Regions from separate parts of the Homo sapiens genome. Here region 2 is linked to region 1. Evidence: fine-mapped expression QTL. A gene starts in region 1. The other region holds a variant in brackets. All regions are shown on one strand. Distances are from middle to middle. Region 1 holds the start of MSLN (mesothelin). Region 2 overlaps RPUSD1 (RNA pseudouridine synthase domain containing 1).

The links. PIP is the estimated chance that this variant, and not a neighbour inherited with it, causes the effect. A credible set is the group of variants that fine-mapping cannot tell apart.
Region 2: its variant is the best candidate, but not a certain one, in a credible set for the expression of MSLN in cartilage (Steinberg 2020, PIP 0.69).

The regions. Positions count from the first base shown.
Region 1 is chr16:757,888-763,244 of GRCh38, reverse strand. It overlaps MSLN (mesothelin), which reads right to left and starts at 2,511. Exons shown (of 18, transcript NM_005823.6): 1 at 2,424-2,511; 2 at 2,071-2,172; 3 at 480-573; 4 at 1-12. The coding sequence starts at 564. RefSeq lists enhancers at 2,555-2,573, 2,739-3,264 and promoters at 2,555-2,573, 2,095-2,575, 2,081-3,930.
Region 2 is chr16:780,475-785,831 of GRCh38, reverse strand. It overlaps RPUSD1 (RNA pseudouridine synthase domain containing 1), which reads left to right. Exons shown (of 6, transcript NM_058192.3): 6 at 1-858. It also overlaps the pseudogene MSLNL. Among named protein-coding and RNA genes, the nearest start is that of RPUSD1, 5.2 kb to the left of the region's middle. The variant G/C (reference allele first, on the strand shown) is at 2,541.

The DNA of each region.
Region 1 (5,357 bases):
GCTGCACCCATCCTAAAGGGGCAGAGGGGACAGCTTGGGGGAGGGGGCGGGCCTCTGGGCTGTGCCCTGACCCAGGGGAGGAAGGAGGCAGAGCCTGGCCGCCCCCACAGCCAGCCCTGTGCACACCCCAAAGAGAAGCCAGTGGCTCAGGCCCATGTACCCCGTGACATCACAGTCCCCCAGGCACAGGGGTCGGGACTCCACCAGGGAGCCCGGCCTTCCACATCTTTCCCTGAGACCCGGCTGCTTGGCCGGTCAGACCACCCATCCCACAGACATCCCCACTGTGTCCTGAGCCCCATCACTCCCTGGCTGGATCTCCAGCTCCAGTCACCTCTGGGGGCAGAGACTGCTGCTGAGACGTGGCCACCACAGGCACTCCAGGGAGAAGGCAGGGGCAGGCAAAGCCTTGCTGGGGGCCTGGCCCCCAAGGCCCCTGGGCCGTCCCCACCTCACCAGCAGCCCCATCAAGTACGCACCGAGGCTGAAGAGCAGGAACAGGAGGCTGCCGAGGGCGGGGGTCCCACAGGACCCCAACAGGGGTCGAGCCGTTGGCAAGGCCATGGTCTGTGTCTGTGGAGGGCAGTGACTCAGGATGGGACCCCCTGCTCCCACCCCACGCCTCTGTCCTGGGCCAGCCTGGGGCCACATGGGCCCAGGAGGGGCTCCCAGAGCAAACTTCTGTGGTACCTGCAGCTTGTGTCCGCACCCTGGCCCTGCCCTCCAGCCACTGAGCCCTCTGTCCCCTGGACTGGCTCCTCCTGTCCAGGGGAGGGGCTGGGTCTGAGATCCCGGTCCCCAGCCCAGACAGCCCAGGAGTCAGTTGGCGCCCACCCCTCTCCCAGAAGGGCAGGGCAGTGTGAGCAGAGCTTAGATCAAGCAACCGGGGCCGCCGCCCACTTGGGCTGGCCTGAGTCTCCCCACTCTCGCACAGGAGGACGAGCAGCCCCGTCGCCTGGATGTGGCTCCCTTCCCTCTCCCCTGCCCTCAGCTGCAGGTGCCTGGGCTTTGTGAACACCCCAGGCTCTGCCAGGCAGACAACACCCTTGAGGCAGGAGGGGCACTGCGGGCACAGAGGCCACCGCCCCTTCCCACCCAGCAGCGTCTTTTTGGGCCACTTGGCCTCTCTGAGCCCATTTTCAGGTGCAGTCCAGGTGGGGCGGGGCTGGGCCAGTGAGCAGCCTGGGGAGCCCCTTGTACTCTCTAGGGTGGGGCCTGTGGGCCACTGTGGGGTGGGGAAGTGGGTGGGGAGACCCTCCCTGAACAAGAATTGTCCTCCTGGGGTAGGGGTGGGGCTCGCAGAAGAGGGAACTGGCTTCTACACTCACCCCTTTCAGGGAGGCCACCATGGCGGAGTAGAATAGAGCTGCCTCCTGAAAACCTTGGCCCAGGCCCGGTGGGTCCACCCACAGCTCAGAAATGGGGGTCACACGCTCATGCTCAGCAGCCCCATCCACAGGCAGAGCCTGCCTGGTCGGCCCGGCCACTGGGGAATGTCGCGGGGAGGCACACAGCCTCCGGGTGACAGACTCTACTCCCCCAGGCCCCAGAGGAAGTGGGGAGGCCCCTGAGGCTCTGAACACCTTGAGAAGGTGGAAGAAAACAGACCCCCCCCACAGCCAGAAAATGGGCAGTGAGTGGGACCCCCAGCCCTTGGGGTGCGTGAAGCCAGGAGGGAAACGTGGCCATCGGATCACAGGGGACCTGGGCACTCCCCACCCCAGCTCCATGTGACCCAAGGACCTCAGCACCTGGGATGGGGGCTCCCCGAGAGCCCGGCCCTTCCTGCTCTGAGGGGCCTCTGCAGGCCATGGGGGGCCCTGGAATCTGCATCCTTTACACCTGCAGGAGAGCTGGGCTGGGGCCGTGGAGGCACCTGCACTGCCTTAGGACTGCCGCTTCCAAACAAATGGGTCTGCGTGTGCCCTGCGGGGTGAAATCTGCGTCCAGCTGAAGCCTGACCATCGCTCTGGTGCTGGAAGCCCGGCCTGGGGCGGCCCCAGTTCTCCAGATGGAAGGTGCAGATTCCATCCACACCACAACAGGAAGAGCTCAAAGGTTGTTACTTACAGATCCCAGGGAGGGAGGCACCGTGGGTCCACCGGTAGCTCTCTGTCCGCGCGTCACAGCAGACGGGAGTGGCCGGCCAGGCAGAAAGAGGAGTGCGTGGCGCTGGCAGCGCCCATGAGGAACAGGACAGCCCCTTTCAGATCGCGGGCCAATGCCCACACGTGGGCCTCTAAAGGGCGATGTGAAAGGGGAAGCCCAGCCCCCAGGCCTCTGAGGCCTTCTGCGCAGTTGGGTAGGGAGCTTTACCCCTAACGCCCGGGCAGCCCCCAGCCCTCCAGGTCCCGAGTGGCCCCTCCCAGGTCTCAGTGGGCCCTGCCCAGGGTAACTCTGATGTGCAGGGTGATTGGCCACACCTGAGCCTCCTCTGCCTCGGTTTCCTCAATTGGGAAGTGGGGGTGGAGAGCCTGGCAGCCTCCCGGGCCGTCAAAGGGAACAAATGACGGCTTTGCCCGGGGCAGCAGGGAGTGGTGGCGCCTCACGCCCCAGGAATGTGTGGGTGGAGACCCCGCACAGGAGCCTTGGACAGGCAGCGGGCCAGGCCTGGGGGAGGAGGGATGCCCAGGAAGGCAAAGCTGCCCTCGGTGGGCGAGGGTGGGAGCCCGGGCCCAGGTTTCACGGCTGCCCTGGGTGGGTGTGGGGCATGTGTAGGAGCCCGGGCCCAGGTTTCATGGCTTCCCTGGGTGGGTGTGGGGCGTGGGTGGGAGCCTGGGCCCAGGTTTCACGGGATCCCACTCTGATTCTCAGGTGCTGAAACCCAGGGAGCACTGGCCCCCCCAGTCGCAGGTCAGCAGGCTCTGGATGGTGGCCACGCAGCCCAGACAGGACTCCCGGGAGCACAAGCCTGACCCCCAGTGCAGTGTGGGCCTCGCAAGGCTGTGAGCCGTCCGTCTCAGGGCTGTGGGAGCACACAGGTCAGGGAGGCAGGACGGGGCCCAGCTCCAGGCACACGCACACCCCTTTCTCGCAGGGTCGACTGGAACAGAGCTGCCCCCGGGCGCTCTCTGGCCTGGCGAAGTGGGAGCTGTCTTCCCTACGCATCTGGGCTGGCTGCCTGCTGCTGATGGAAGAGCTGCTCCTCCTGACCTGGGGCCACAGAAGCCCCCTCCCTGCCCCTGAAACCCCTCCCAGCATGTCGTGAGCTCTTATCCCCAGTACGGAATCTGCCTCCGCTATGAACACCTGCAAAGGTTTGTGTGCTGAACGGAGGTGTGCGCGGCGGTCATCTCTGGTCTCTCCACAGAGTGGGTTTTCTATCGTGACTCGCGGTGGAATCGGACCTTCACGCACACAGAATTCAGCAAGGCTGCCAGGTGTAAGCGTCAACTTACAAATGTCAAGAAGGGATTAAGGGCCTTTTAAAAACTCCCTTCCGCAGAGAACAACTGAAAAATTCCAGACACTCTTGTAGCAAACCAGTTACCCAAGGGCTCTGGGGAGGGGACAGAAGGCAGCCGGCTTGGGCGGGAACTCACAGGTAAAGGGAGAGGCCAGCTCCGAGTGGCGTTCCCTTTGTGTCCACACAGCTTTGCTCTGAAGGAGCCGCAGGTTGGCTGCGGGGCTGTGAAGTGGCCCAGGCTGCCACGGACACCCACAACTTTCCCGGCCAAAGGCCAAAGGAAACCAAGGAAGGAGCCCAGAATACTCAGGGCCCAGAGCTCGAGGAGAGGCCTGAGCCGGAGGAGCCAAGGAGGCGCCCACGTGCCCAGCTGAGCCCTGAACTGAAGGAGCCGAGGAGGGTCCAGGAAGAGCTCGGAGGGCCCCGTAGACACGGCTGAGCCCTGAACAGGAGCCTCAGAGGGGCCCATGTGCCCGGCTAAGCTCTGAACCAGCCGACTGCAAGCTGCGGACAATGATGAAAACGCGCTGTGGCCAGCCTGGGCTCACCCTTCAGCCAGCACCGTGGGAGGCCGATGCGGGAGGGTCCGTTGAGGCCAGAAGTTCAAGACCAGCCTGGGCAACGTAGTGACACCTCATCTCTATAAAGAATCTTTAAATGAGGCCCTGTGTGGTGGCGCACGCCTGTCATCCCAGCACTTTGGTAGGCCGAGGTGGGCGGATCACCTGAGGTCAGGAGTTCGAGACCAGCCTGGCCAACATGGAGGAACCCCGTTTCTACTAAAAATATGAAAATTAACTGGGCGTGGTGGCACATGCCTGTAATCCTAGTTACTCAGGAGGCTGAGGCAGAAGAATCACTTGAACCCAGGAGGTAGGGGTTGCAGTGAGTCGAGATCACGCCACTGCACTCCAGCCTGGGCAACAGAGCAAGACCCTGTCTCAAAAAAAAAAAAAAAAAAAAAAAAAATGCCGGGCGCAGTGACTCACGCCTGTAATCCCAGCACTTTTGGAGGCCGAGGCAGGCAGATCATGAGGTCAGGAGATCGAGACCATCTTGGCTAACACGGTGAAACCCCGTCTCTACTAAAAATACAAAAAATTAGCCGGGCGTGGTGGCGGGCGCCTGTAGTCCCAGCTACTCGGGAGGCTGAGGCAGGAGAATGGCGTGAACCCGGGAGGCAGAGCTTACAGTGAGCCGAGATGGCACCACTGCACTCCAGCCTGGGCAACAGAGCGAGACTCCATCTCAAAAAAAAAAAAAAAAAAAAAAAAGCCCAGGCGTGGTGGCTCACGCCTGTAATCCCAGCACTTTGGGAGGCCGAGGTGGATCATGAGGTCAAGAGATCAAGACCATCCTGGCCAACATGATGAAACCCCGTCTCTACTGAAAAAAAAAAGAAAGAAAGAAAGAAGAAAAATAAGAATATCTGTGTGATTTTTTTTTTTTCTGAGACGGAGTCTTGCTCTGTCGCCCAGGCTGGAGTGCAGTGGCGCGATCTCCGCTCACTGCAACCTCCGCCTCCCAGGTTCATGCCATTCTCCTGCCTCGGCCTCCTGAGTAGCTGGAACTACAAGCGCCCGCCACCATGCCTGGCTTTTTTTTTTAAGTAGAGATGGAGTTTCACCGTGTTAGCTGGGATGGTCTCGATCTCCTGACCTCGTGATCCGCCCACCTCGGCCTCCCAAAGTGCTGGGATTACAGGCATGAGCCACCATGCCCGGCCATATCTATGTGTCTATGTGATTGAAAGAACGTAGATTCCTACCTCATATTATATGCAAAATTTACTCAAAGCCAACCATAGGCCTGAGTATAAAGGCTGAAACTATAAAACCATTAGAAGGAAATTCAAGAGGAAGTGTTTGTGGGCTTGGAACAGGCAAAGACCTGTTAGATGGAAGAAAGAAGGCAGAAACCATGACTGACACTGCTGCTCTTTGAATGATGC
Region 2 (5,357 bases), 23 kb before region 1:
TGGGTTGCCCCGGCCAGGCCTGCGAGGAAGGGCTGAGGTGGGGCCGGCAGGGGGCGCCAGGCAGCCGTGATCACAGGTGACGACCGCACCGCGGCCGTGGGACTGATGCGGGATCCCGAGGGCCTTCCTGCCCACATGCCCCGGGAGAAACCGAGGCCCCTCCCTCCTCCTGGAACAGCTTCCGGCTCTCAAGCGTCACCCCAGGGGCGTCAGTTTTACGGACTCAAGGTCACCTCAGGAAGAGGCAGGGCCAGGTTTTGGGATAGGCTTTGCCTCCAGGATGGGCTGCTCCTGGGCCTGGTGAGCTACTGCCCCCAACCTACCCTCTAGAGGGGCTGGGAAGGGCCGTTCTGGGCTCACCTGGCCTGGGAGACCCATCTGGTCCCTGCGTCCTCTGCCCCTCACTGCTCTGTGCAGATCCTGTCGCCCTCAGCTGCCTCCTCCCGAGACCTAATGGTCCCTGCTGGGCTCGAGTCTGCAGGCCCGGCTGCGTGTGCCTTGGCCTCACTGTACCAGTGGTTCCCTCTCTGCCCGGATTCTGAGCTCAGTGTGGTGTTTGGTGCACAGGGGTTGGTCAGGGGCCATGGCCAAGGCCCTGCCACGCACGCCCATCCCTCAGATCCACTGTGAGCACCAACCTGCTGCAGTCTCTTGGGCCCCTGCTGGCAGCTCTGCCACGTCACCGCCTGCCTGGCTCCCACACAGCCATGCATTGTCACTCTGCCTCCGGGACCCCAGCTTGGGAGCTGTGGGTCTGCCAGGTCCCACCTCCTCTGTCCCCCATGCCACAACCTGGGCTCCTGGCTACAGCAGGGCTCCAGGGACTCCAAATAAATGTTCAGTGACTGGCTCCAAGGATGACCGTGAACGTGTCCGAAGTGGGGCTTCCAAGGGACAGGTCTGGCCACCCAGACCTTTCCTAGCTCTCTTCCCTGCCCTGAGGCCCCAGCAGGACCCAGGACAGACGCAGTGGTCCAGGCTCCTATCGGCCTCTCCTGCAGACAGCAAGCACCGTGCAGCTTTGGCCTGGGCACAGACCCTGGGCCGGCCCCGGACAACCCCCAGCCCCCACAACCAGAGCCATGGGAATACCCAGCTGGTCCAGCCAGGGATCTTCGTAGAGCCCAAGTCTCAGAGCTCTGTGGAAGGGGCATCTCATGGGCCAGCACTTGGTCTCAGGTCCGCCTGGCCCCTGCCTGCCACTGTCCAGCTCCGGGGCCAGCCCTGAAACCCTGGTTACGACCCCAGCGGTGACAGCAGCAGGGCCTGGACCAGAGGCAGCTGCCACCGTGCCCTCAGCCGAGATGCGGGTTCCAGACCCGGAGTCCCCACCGGGGCCCAGACCGGAGGCAGCTGCCACCGTGTCCTCAGCCGAGACGCGGGTTCCAGACCCGGAGTCCCCACCGGGGCCCGACTGGAGGCAGCTGCCACCGTGCCCTCAGCCGAGACGTGGGTTCCAGCCCCAGAGTCCCTGAGGTGAGGCCACAGGCCCTGGACTCACTGCTGCTGCTCCCATGACTCAGTTTCCTCATCTGTAAAGGAAGGGGCTGGTGCAGATCCGAAGGGACCGCATAACCCTCAAGTAGCACCAGTCGGCCACCCCAACAGAGTGCGGCAGCAAAGCCCTCCCGGCCAGCACGCCCATCACTCTCGAGGCTCCTCCCTGGCCAGCCCCGGGACGTGTCCACCCTCGGGCACCTGGCCCCGGCCTCCCCTCCCCCAGGGCTGGCTTATCTCCAGGCCTCCTCCTGGTCCTTGTCTGAATCAGCCCAAGTCAGGGCCAGGCACGCCTCCCCTCTCTGGCTGGGACAGTCTCCCCACCCTGCCCCACGGGGCCCCACCCCTCTAGACTGGGGGCTGCCGACCTCACTGCCCCAACAGCAGCTGTTGGAGCCGCTGTGTCCAGCTGGGCTGGCCCAGCTGACAGCCGGCCAAGGGGCCTTCAAGGCCTGACCTGAGCCGGACCCTCATCAACAAGCCAGGCCTGAGCGCCGTCCCTCATGGTGCCCGTGCCTCGTTGTCAGCCTAGAGCTCTCAAAGGGGCACCTGGGTTCCTGTGGGCTTGTGCAGGCCTGGGGAGCAGTCACCTACCAGTTCCCCTGCCGTCAGCCTCCAGAAGACCCAGATCGGGGGTCAAGTCTCAGCTTGGCCATGGAGCTGGCTTGTTGGGCACCCATAGCATAGCTGTGGTGCAGGGGGTGGTGGTTCCACAGCTGAACCTGAGCTGCAGGTCCTGCCAAGCAGGGGCTGAGTCTCTCCCAAGATGAGAGCTGGGGTAGGTGGGCCAGGCCAGGGCTCAGCCTGGGTCACCCAGCACCCTGTCCCAGTGAGGGGAGAAGCCTGGCAGGTGGGCTGGGAAGTCCCTCCTGTGTCTTCTCCTGCCCTGGCCTGCCTGGTGGAGCCCGACAGTGCATACTTGGGTGCTCTTGCCTGCCCACCTCTGAGCTGCGGCACCCACGGAATGGCCGCAGCCGTCACCATTCCTGGCCCCCGCATTGGGTACTCGTCTGCCTGATGTCCCCGCAGAGGCACACATGGTG[G/C]ATCTGTGTCCGTGCTCCCGGGCACACAGACCAGGAGGCCCGAGAGGCACCTGTGCACACGCAGGCACCAGCAAACACGGCAGACTCAGGTGCAGGCGCACGACATGACCCCTGGGGCACAGACGCTGCAGAGCAGGGCCCCAGTGGGTGGGGAGGGGTGTGAGCTGGGCAGCTGCCAGCCGTGAGCTCAGCCTTTGCTCTAGGGGAAGGGAGTAGGTGCCCATTGTGCCTGAGGTCCCCAGGGGCTGACGCGGTGCATCGCCTGGCACAGCCCGGGCCTCCCCCACAGGACTGCCTGGCGGGCGTCACCGTGGGAGTGGGACTGGGCGGGGCGAGGCAGTCTCATGCCGCCTGCCAGGCCAGGCATGGAGGTGAGCGGGGACCCCGGCATCCCCGCCCTGCACCGCCTCTGCACCCGGGCGCTCAGTGGTAGCGGCTGACGCACTTGGCGGGCTGGGATTGCGTCTGGATCACCTGGTCCACAACTCCCTGCCAGGAGCAGCCACCCCACAGCCTGGGCAGCACCTCCCTCCACCACACCCAGGGTTTCTGCTCAGGTGAGAAACGCTGGCGGGAGCCACCACCAGCCCACCCGCAGGGCCGGTCCCGGACCTGTGGCTGGGCCTGAACCTCTGCATTTGCCTCTGCATGGGGCAGCCTCCCTGTCTCCCTCCTGGGCCACAGTCAGGAGGCCCAGAGGTGCCCAAAAGCCATCAGGCTGGCTCCAGGAGGAGGCAGTGACCCACAGCAGTACCGGACTCCTCTAGGGTCCCTGGCCTTGCAGCTTCCATTTCCAGCATGGTTGAGGCTACCCCAGCTGCCACTGGGGGCTGGATGTCAGCGAAAGAGCCCAACAGCTGGGGCTCAAAGAGGGAAAGGGAGCTGCCAGGGCTGCCGGGTGTGGGGATGAAGCCAGGGCTGCACGAGGCTGCCTGGGGGACTCGCTGTTTGTTGGAAATCTGTTCATTGGAGACCCAGCAGCCCATGGGTCCCCTAGGCCCCGACCTGCAATAAGAAAGGCCCCAGGGTTTCACCCGGCTCCCGCTCCCTGCTCCTGCCTTTTACTGTTTATGGGATCCTTTCCCCTCGAAGGTGGGAGAGGCGCAGCTCTGGCCCCGCTGCCCTGGGTGAACCTAGACTGCACCCTCCCTCTCCACACCCCAGGGGGTGGGAGGCAGTGCGGGGCCAACCTGTGTGTCTCACCTGTGTCTCGCCTCTGTCACGCCTCTCCAGCTAGTCCTGGACCCACTGCCCTTGGCCCCAGCACCTTCCTGCCCTGGGACGTCTCAGCCAGGATGACCAGTGCACGCCGCCGCACAGACGTGGGCCCCAGAGTGGGTGAGACGAGACCTCCATGCAGAAAGGGGGCCTCCAGAGTGCCAGGCCCTCATGGCAAAGCCATCCCGTAGACATGGGAGTGCCCAGGGCCCTGGCCACCCCATTCTCCTGAGCGAGGGTCTGTCCCAAGCCAAGGAAGGAGAAGGTGGGCCCTGCCCAGCAGCAGCAGGACGGGGGTCGGGCTGCCAGGGCACTGTGAGCCCAGCCCTCCCCAGCAGGCATGGGGGTCCTGGGAGGGTGAGGCAGGGCAGGCAAGTTTGGCTAGAGGGGGCCACTCCTGGCCCAGGCAGCTGGACATGGCTTCTGGGGAAACGGTGTGGGGGTGAGTGGAGACAGCGTTCTCTCGGGCAGTCCGGCCACAGGCAGGGCTGGGCTCTGAGGCCAGGGTTGCCCAATGCCTCACCCTCCCTGAGAGGGGTGGGCCGGGCCCCAGCAGCCCAGGAGGCCGTGGTCAGATTTCTGTGTGGGCTGTGGCAACCCCTGCTTGACGCCTGCCGGAGAAGAGACTTCACCACGTGGTCTCCCCAGGGCCAGCAAGATAAGGGGGCTCCCCTGCACCCAAACCCCCTTCCTGGGCTGGGTTTCCAAAGCAGGAACATGGGCTGGGCTCCCAGTTCCTGCTGGGAGGCCCTGCCGTGACCCCCACTGCAGAGCTGAGCAGCCGGGGCCCTTGAAGGTGGCTTCTGCCCCCACAGCTCTGCTGCCTTAGGGGTCTCAGGGCTCCACTGTGAGAACACAGAGCCATGGGGCGTCTGGAGGGAGGTAGAAGGAGCTCACACACATGCACCTGCCATCTCACACATGTGCAACACAGGTGGACATGCGCACACGCTGCCAGAGTCATGCACACAACTGTCACCTACCCGTGCACACTGTCACCTACCCATGCACACAGCTTTCACCTACCCGTGCACACAGCTTTCACCTACCCGTGCACACAGCTGTCACCTCCCCGTGCACACAGCTGTCACCTACCTCTGCACACCGTCACCTCCCCATGCACACAGCTGTCACCTCCCCGTGCACATAACTGTCACCTACCCGTGCACACAGCTGTCACCTCCCTGTGCACACAACTGTCACCTCCCTGTGCACACAGCTTTCACCTACCCGTGCACACAGCTTTCACCTACCCGTGCACACAGCTGTCACCTACCCGTGCACACCGTCACCTACCCGTGCACACCGTCACCTACCCGTGCACACAGCTGTCACCTACCCGTGCACACAGCTGTCACCTACCCATGCACACTGTAACCTACCCGTGCACACCATCACCTACACGTGCACACAGCTGTCACCTACCTGTGCACACTGTCACCTACACGTGCACACTGTCACCTACACATGCGTGCCTGCACGCATCCACAGTCTCATGCCTGTGCTGTATACCCGTGCACACTGTCACCTACCCGTGCACACTGTCACCTACATGTGCACACTGTCACCTACACATGCGTGCCCGCACGCATCCACAGC